Linked DNA regions of Homo sapiens: all the other regions are linked to region 1. Evidence: fine-mapped expression QTL. A gene starts in region 1. Each other region holds a variant in brackets. All regions are shown on one strand. Distances are from middle to middle.

Region 1 (2,765 bases):
ATCTACCCTCCCTTCTTAACCGCTCCTTTCCAAGAGGCTAGACTACAAAAAATTTGGGCTCCAAGAAGTATGAACCAGAATATGGATATTTTGTAAAAATGGAATGTAAGTTGAGGTTCCTGAACAATGTGATGTTAGGCAGGGTGCGGTGGAATTGGCCTGTAGTCCCAGCTACTTGGGAGGCTGAGATGGGGAAGATCCCTTGAGGAGGATCTCTTGGGTTCAGGAGTTCGAATCCAGCCTTGGCAGCAGACCCCATCCCTGAAAACAATAAAAATTAAAACAACAACAGTGGGATACTAGTCTTTTAATTTGAAAAAAAAAGGGGTGGAGAAAGGGAAAACCAGTTTTCAAAAAAGGCCAATTTCCTAGACATTAGTGGTTGATTACTAACTCATTTCATTAAACTAAATTATGAATTGGCTTTTCTCGTCAGTGTCACCACTCTGATGGCGTTCTTTTCCATTTTCCATCTTCACCCTGGCCGAATGTGGGAAATGATCTGGTTTGTGCATAATCCGCGAGGCCCAGGGAGGATCTTTTGCCCCTATTGTTTTCTTGGGTGTTCTCACTCTGGGGGCCTGACATTCCTCGCGTGTCTAAGGCAATGAGGGAGCAGTGAAGCGCGGGGAAGCCGCACAAAAGACATCCAAAGGCTATCAATGGAAAAAGATCAATTAGGTGCACACAAGAAACACCCAATATGCCAGGGAAGAGAAAAATACCCTTTTCCAGAGGGTGGGAAATTGATTGAGCTTCTGTGAGGGTCCACAAAGAACTGGACGGATGCAGTGGTGGATGGCGATCTCTCTGGACCACTCCGGACGCGCCCAGCAGACGCAGCCTACGCCTTTAGGTCCTAGGAGGCTGAGAAGGGTGGGGAGAGGGGGGCAGCACGATCTTGTGTCTTTCCTCCCCGTGCCGCCTCTACCGAATCGCGGATGCTTCATTAATCTTGCAGGCGCCGCAGCTCGGGTCAGTATGGAGGCGGATCGGTGGCAGAGCCCGGGCCTCTGGGCTGCGCCCGCCCGTTCAGCCTGGCCCGGGAGGGGAGCGGCCGCGCGGTGGGCCAAAGACGCCCGGCCTTCCCTCCGTCTGCTTCCAGCAGGCACAGCCGGGAGGCTGGGCTCAGGGGCTGACCCGAATCTCCCCTAGAGCTGGGCCCACCCGGCTGCCCCCCGAGCAGCCTCGCCGCTCCCACGCCACCGCCCAAGTGACAGGCCCGGGAAGGCCGGACGGGACGCAGTCTTCCCGCCGGGGTCTTCCCTCCGGCTGGCCGGCCGCTGCAGGGCGCGCGCGCACACACGTACACACACACACACACCTGCCCACACACACACACACACACACACACACACACTGCCGCCTCCTTCCCGCCCCGCAGCCCTAGCAGCCCCCAACCCGCTCCCCAGCGCGCTGCGCCCCGGCGGCCTCCGCAGGCCCCGCCCCGGGGAGGAGAGCCAGGCGCGCGCGGGAGCTAGGCTCGGGGAGGGGCCGGCGGTGGGGGAGTGTCTGCTGCCCCCGCCCCTCGAGTGAGTGACTGAGCGAGGAGCTCCCCTCCCTCGCTCGCTCCTCGCAAGCTCCCGCTCGCTCCCTGCCCACTCCCGGGGGGACGTTCCGTGCCGCGGCCGCCGCGGCCGCTGCTTCTTTCACACTTTAGTTGGGAGCTGCGCGCCGCGCTCAGTTACTGGAGAGCTGGCCGCGCGCCGCCGCCTCCCGCACGCTTGCACGCGGGCCCGGCTTCGGGGTTTTGGGTTCTTACTCCAAGCGGCGGGGAGGAGGGGGAGCCCCGGACACACTGTGGGGAGGAGGAGGAAGAAGAGGAGGAGGGAGGAAGAAAAAAGACGAGGAGGACAGGGGCGGGGGGCGGGAGGCTTGCCACCTTCAGCCCCCCCGCGAACGCCCAAGGTAAGTGTGAGCCATTGCCTGCTCTGGGGCGGGGGGAGCTGGCGGTGCAGCCCGCCCCGGCTCGGCTACCCGGGCATCCCCGGGTGGGCAGGGAGGGAGGCCTGCGGGGTGTCTGCCGCACGGAAGGGATGGGAGCCGCGGTCGTGGCGCTGCCTGCGCGGGGCCCGGGCCGGGGCTGCTGCTGGTGCGGGGCTGGCGGGGTTGCTGCCAGGGACGGAAGCTGGGGTGGGGGAGCCGCGAGGGGCGTCTGCCGGCCTGGGCGGAGGGGCTGGGATGTGGTCGGGGCTGCTGACGACTTTCGTCACATCGAGGCCTGGGTGGCTGGTGTTAGACACCCCTCCCTTCCCACCCGCACCCTGCCGCCCTCAGCCTTCCTGCTCTCCTCTAGCTTTGCATGTAGCCACCGTACTTTGCAAGCCAGAGCTTGAAAGGAAAAACACAATTTAGGATCCTTTGCTAAGTATCCAAGTCCCTTCTCTCGCTCCGACTGATTGATGTGTTTGTGTGGGTGGTTTGACCCCCGGGATTTCTGAAGTTTTGACCTTTTTGGGGTGGCTCGTTTCGTTGCATCTGTTTGCCCACCTCGGTGTATTTATTATTCGTGCCCATGCGAGGCAGCCAGAGGGTGCTTGGTTATTGTACACGAAACAGATTTCACTCTCCTCTGCAGGCAGTTCGCGAAGTGCCGCCGCCGCGGCTGCCTTTGGTCTGCTGGTTAATGTCCTTTCCCTATCATCCACCCTGCTCCCTCCCTCTACGGAGGGTTAGTTTTTGTTTTTGTTTTTGTTTTTTCCTTTCCACTTACTGTTTGTGTGAGAGAAGTCCTGGGCTTAAGGGCTCTCAGCACTCGTTCATTT
Region 2 (2,765 bases), 130 kb after region 1:
GCACATTAATTTTTGGTTTACCAATAGTCACATTGTTTGGCCAGTTTGCAGTATTTGTAACGACAGAATAAATAGAACAGACCTCTGCTGGTCTAATTTAAAGATTGGGGTGTTGATAATGACTTCCCTTTTCCCAGCATTGTTATAAAATGTGATTGCTTTTAAACATGCTTTCCTTAGATGCAGGGTGCTATCTAAAAGTGGTTGAACAGATTTACTCTTGACCTCCTCCTGTCCAGTAAAGGATAGCATCTAGTTTATCCCCTGAAACTTTCCTGTTTAACTTTTGGAAATACAGCAACATAAACAATACTTTAGATTTCTGGCCTCTTCTCTAAGAGCAGGACCCTGATATTTAAGTAGAAAGTAGAAAGAAGCTCTCTTCAAAGCTTGATCCTGTTTGATCTACATGGTCATTTTAGATAGTGGATTTATTTATCTCACTAAAACATGAGCATTTTTTATATGCAAGTGGCCCCATTGAGACACCTGAGTCGGGGGAAATGAGTGACAATTGAGAGGGCCACCTTTAAGGCTGGGCCACTGTTACTAGAGTACCCAGAACAATAACACAGTGGTGTTACTTTCTGCAGGTTGTTCAGATTTCTCTCTTATTCCCTATGTGTTGCTAAAAATAAAACCACAGCATATAAATTTCACTCATCTATTGGCAAACTCAGTGAGGTAGCTTCACCCAACATTAATAATTTATGCCTTGGAGGTGAGAGTATCAAAAGCAACCATTATGTTTCCAGGAGTCTCGGCTCCGGTAAGCATCTCTTCCTGTCGACTTCATTTGTGAGCAAATAATACCCAGTATTAACGGAGATACAGGATTCACCAGCCTTATGATTTTTATTTTTACCAGGTTTTTGGTAGTTCTGAAAATGGAGTTTATTCTTGTCATCCAGAAAACATAGAAATAAATAATGAGGCATAAAAATTTCATACATCTTCCTTGGAGGGAGGAGGAATATTGTTTAGCTTGTCAACATTATAATAAGTATATGAAGGTACCATTATAAGTGCCTGCTTCATGTTCATAATAGGATTAATGTATTTACTCAGTGCTCTGTATGATAACAGATGCCAAATTTCTTCCTTCTTTGAAAAGTAAAACAATTGATAATGACAACAATATTTCCCAAAATGTAATGAGATGACTCCGTTTTTTGGTTCCTGTTCGAGTGTAATGGTACATTACAGAGTCTCATTTACTGGCAAACTTCTGCTTATAACTGGATAACTTGAGAGCTTGCTTAATTTTAGGCAAATACTTCTTTTAGAATTTTTACAGTTGAGTGCATAAAATGAGACAGGAATCTGGTGAGTGGAACTGGAATATGAGGTAGGGCTTGGTCTCAGAAATGAAGCTGAAGATTCATTATTAGCACATGGGTCTGACATTATCAGGCCAGGTTTCCTTTGCTTCTCCTGAGTATGAGGCACAATGAAACCTAAAGGAACAGCAGGGAAC[G/A]CCAACTGCAGACAAAGAGAACAGAGAATCTCATTCTAATGATTCACAGCGATGCCTTACTGCTCATAATGTTTCAGCTCAAATCAAACAATCTCTGCTGGCCAGGAGATGGCCATCTAGTGAGACAAAGTAAACCACCCATAGCTAATGGATTGGTTTACTCCTGTTATTTTCTTATTTATTGTACTTTAAATAATTGTACTTTATTTAATTGTACTTTTAAAATTAACCTTTCTCTGTTTGTAAACATACTACTTGCTTGAATTACTTTAAAACATACTTTGGGAAATACAGAAGTGAATAAAAAATAAAATCAGGCATAAACCCCATAACAATCATTTATGTTTTTATGCCTAATATAAATAGAAATACAGAAATATAACTTTTTTTTTGAGATGGAATCTCGCTCTTGTTGCCCAGGCTGGAGGGCAATGGCACGATCTTGGCTCACTGCAACCTCCGCCTCCCGGGTTCAAATGATTCTCCTGCCTCAGCCTCCCGAGTAGCTGGGATTACAGGCATACGCCACTATGTGTGGCTAATTTTGTATTTTTAGTAGAGACAGTGTTTCTCCATATTGCTCAGGCTGGTCTCGAACTCCTGACCTCCACTCGCCTCGGCCTCCCAAAGTGCTGGGATTACAGGTGTGAGCCACTCACTGCACCCGGCCAATATAATTTTTTTTCTAAACAAAATAGATCTGAATTTCTTACAATGCTAAACATAATCTTACCATATGTCTAGAAATCGTGCTCCCAGGGTATTTTCCCAACTGATTGGAAAAACTGTAACCATACAAAAACCTTTATGTGAATGTTGGTAACAGCTTTATTCATAATCACCAAAAACTGGAAGCAACCAAGGTGTCCTTCAATAGATGAGTGGACAAGCTGTAGTACATCCAGACAATGGAATATTACTTAGTAATAAGAAGGAATGAGCTACCAAGCCATGAAAAAAACATGGATAAGTGCATATTGCTAAGTGAGAAAAGCCAGTCTGAAAGATACACACTGTATGATTCTACTTGCATGATATTCTGAAATAGGCAAAACTGTAGATTTCCAGAGATTTGTACAAAAAAGAAGGGTGTATAGGTGAAGCACAGAGGATTTTTCTTTTAGGATGGTGAAACTATTCTGTATGGTACTGTAATGGTAGGTACATGTTACTATACATTTGTCAAAATTCATAGAGCTTTATAGCAAAGAGAGTGAAATTTAACGTACATAAATTAAAAACACAAACAAAAATGAAAGCCTGGGGATCTCGGTATAGAATGCAGACT
Region 3 (2,765 bases), 220 kb after region 1:
CTGGAAGACTCCTAGAGTAGACATCTCTACTTGGAGCAGCGTAGCAGGTATAGAGCAAGCACAGTGCCAGATAATTGGATTGATAGAGGCCAAGGGAAGGAGGCAGCATGGTGCAAGAGAAAGAGCCCATGCTTCAAACCTGGGCCAAAGCCAAGGATTGGCTCTGGCAGCAGCTGTGTGACCCCAGGTTAAGTTAAACTCTCTGATTCTCAGTTTTCTCACCAATAAAATTTGAGAAATAATACTAACTGGTCTGGGATATTGAAGAAAATACACAGAGTCTCCAGTAGTGTTTGCTGTGTTGTATGTGCTCTGTAATTGGTAGCCTTCATTTTGGTTGAAGTCGCCTGTGTTTGTACCATCAAGGCCATTTATACAGGAAGGATTTGGGATGGGCTTGTTGGGGGTGGTGCTAAACCGAACCTGAAAATGCAGAACTTAGAAACTTGGATCCTGCGTGAGCAAGTGCCTTCCTACGGTACAAATATCTCCTTGTAGAAAGAGTAGTAGAATCGCACAGTTTCCAGTGTATTCATCCACCTCCCTCCTATGTGGTGTAATAAACATGTTCAGGAGTTAGATTCTTGTGAACACTTACAGAGCCATTAAATAACCTGTGCTAACTTTCGAGCTGTGATTACAGAATGAGTCAGTGAGTCAGTGGCATGGATACAGCTACAGCTGAATCCCTATATATTTTTTTCTGTTTGGAAGTTTTACTCTTAATTGTTGTGTCTCATTTGAAAGGCTTTTATAAGCCTTTTAAAAGATATTCATTGGCCAGGTGTAGTGGCCCATGCCTGTAATCCCAACACTTTGAGAGGCTGAGGTGGGAAGATCACTTGAGGCCAGGAGTTTGAGACCAGCCTGGGCAACATTGCAAGACCCTGTCTCTACAAAAAATAAAAATAAAAATTAGCCAGGTATGGTGGCATTCACCTGTAGTCCCAGTTACTTGAGAGGCTGAGGCAGGAGGATCACTTGAGCCCAGGAGTTTGAGGTGGCAGTGAGCTGTGATTGTGCCACTGCACTCCAGCCTGGGTGACAGAGCAAGACTTTGTCTCTTAAAAAACAAAAAAGTATTACTATCAGCCTAAATATGCTTGTAACAACAACAAAAAAAATTTAGGAAAGGGGCTCCAAACAAAATCATAGAAATTGTAAGACTGACTTCTTTGATCCATTTAATAAGCTTGACATGAACATGTTCTCTGGACCTAGAAATGAGCCAGGGCCATGAGAGGCACATAATGAGGAATGATAAAATAGGATTCTTGTCTTTAGGGAGCCTCAAATCTGGAAGAATAGCATTTTGCATTGGAAGGAACTTTAGAGAATGTCTTATCCAATTTACCCTCAACTTTTCATCTCCCACTAAACAGCACCCTCCATAGCAAAGAATGAGACATTCCCGTTTATATCAGCTGGGAAGGAATTATGAGGCA[C/T]ATTATGTTCTGAACATTGCTTGAAAAATTTATTCTGAAGTATTATGTTATTTCTGGTGCACTTTATTCCTCTCTTTCACAATTCTATCAAGTGCAGGCACATTCTGCTCTGTTCCTAGAGAAAGCATTCTTGGAGCAGACACTTCTAGACTCCCCTCACTTCAATTCCATTTTTCTAAGTTGATTCAAAAAGGAGTACCAAAAAATTGTAAGCTCATATTTACAAAATTGATTGTTGGAGGCTTGCTTAGAGATGCATAATCATACCCTGCCTCTCTTCTGGGCTTCTTACAAATTGAAAACAGGCACAGGGAGCCGGATGAGTATCATGGTCAGTATCTACCTTATTAATGGGCCGGATGATTCCCAGGTGTGGATCTAGAGTGAGTTTGGAATATATTTATAACACTTAAAACATCAAATGATTTGTAGGCATAATATATAAAGAAGTAATATTAGTGCAAACCGGTAAAAACCATCAATTAAACTACAATAAAGTTCACTGCAGCATTCTTTATTCAACAGCCAAAAAACTGGAAGAAAACTAAGTATCCACCCATGGAGAAATGAATAATTAAAATCCTCCATATTCATACAGTGCAATATTATGCAGCAGTTAAGAGACATAAACCAAGCATATAGATATATATATACACATGTGTATATACACATACATATATATGTGTGTGTATATATACATATATATGTGTGTATATATATACATATATGTGTGTGTATATATATACACATATATGTGTGTGTATATATATACATATATATGTGTGTGTATATATATACATATATAGAGAGAAAGAGTCACAATTATAGATTTCAAATACAATTATTAAGTGAAGAGAGGATTATGCAGAATGATAAAAATTGTATGATACCATGTACATTAAAAACACACAAATACATTGTTTATAGATGGACATTCAACAAATATTTATTAAGCACCATCAGTTTTTACATGGCATATTTACAAATGGCATGTGTTTTTATCTGTTATATATTTAAATATTCATATACACATAAAAGTGTAGTATATTTGTTATATCGATATAAGATGAATATCAAAGTATCTAAAATGATACCAAACATACAAACCGACCAAACCCATGAACATTGCTGTGCCCGGGGATGGGGAATGAGAAATGGGTGGTAGTTTCATTTCTTAGAAGGAGGGCAGAGGCTAGCAGGAGATGGTACAAAATATTACTAGTTCTTATGTCTAGTGGTGGGAATATAGTGTCTTTACATTCTTCATACTTTTCTGTATCTTTTAAATTTCTCAAAATCAAAAGAAGTCTATGAAAACAG

Direction of the effects. Alleles are on the strand shown, and positions count from the first base shown. SD is a standard deviation of normalised expression in the study named. Not every link is listed here.
As copies of T replace C in region 3, the expression in esophagus muscle of the gene that starts at base 1,569 in region 1 goes down (moderate effect, 0.51 SD a copy in GTEx).

What was found.
Region 2: its variant is fine-mapped to the expression of C1orf21 in whole blood (TOPMed, PIP above 0.99).
Region 3: its variant is fine-mapped to the expression of C1orf21 in esophagus muscle (GTEx, PIP above 0.99). The same link has a PIP of 0.9 or more in aorta, esophagus mucosa, gastroesophageal junction, subcutaneous fat, thyroid and tibial artery.

Annotation. Positions count from the first base shown.
Region 1 is chr1:184,385,461-184,388,225 of GRCh38, forward strand. C1orf21 (chromosome 1 open reading frame 21) reads left to right here and starts at 1,569. Exons shown (of 6, transcript NM_030806.4): 1 at 1,569-1,908. It overlaps C1orf21-DT (C1orf21 divergent transcript), which reads right to left and starts at 1,244. Exons shown (of 1, transcript NR_172919.1): 1 at 293-1,244. RefSeq lists silencers at 1,055-1,114, 1,205-1,314, 1,345-1,604.
Region 2 is chr1:184,519,042-184,521,806 of GRCh38, forward strand. All of the region lies in intron 3 of C1orf21 (chromosome 1 open reading frame 21), which reads left to right. Among named protein-coding and RNA genes, the nearest start is that of C1orf21, 130 kb to the left of the region's middle. RefSeq lists an enhancer at 1,207-1,768. The variant G/A (reference allele first, on the strand shown) is at 1,478.
Region 3 is chr1:184,605,516-184,608,280 of GRCh38, forward strand. All of the region lies in intron 5 of C1orf21 (chromosome 1 open reading frame 21), which reads left to right. LOC107985236 (a long non-coding RNA gene) reads right to left here. Exons shown (of 4, transcript XR_001738328.3): 4 at 1,944-2,765. Among named protein-coding and RNA genes, the nearest start is that of EDEM3, 150 kb to the right of the region's middle. The variant C/T (reference allele first, on the strand shown) is at 1,446.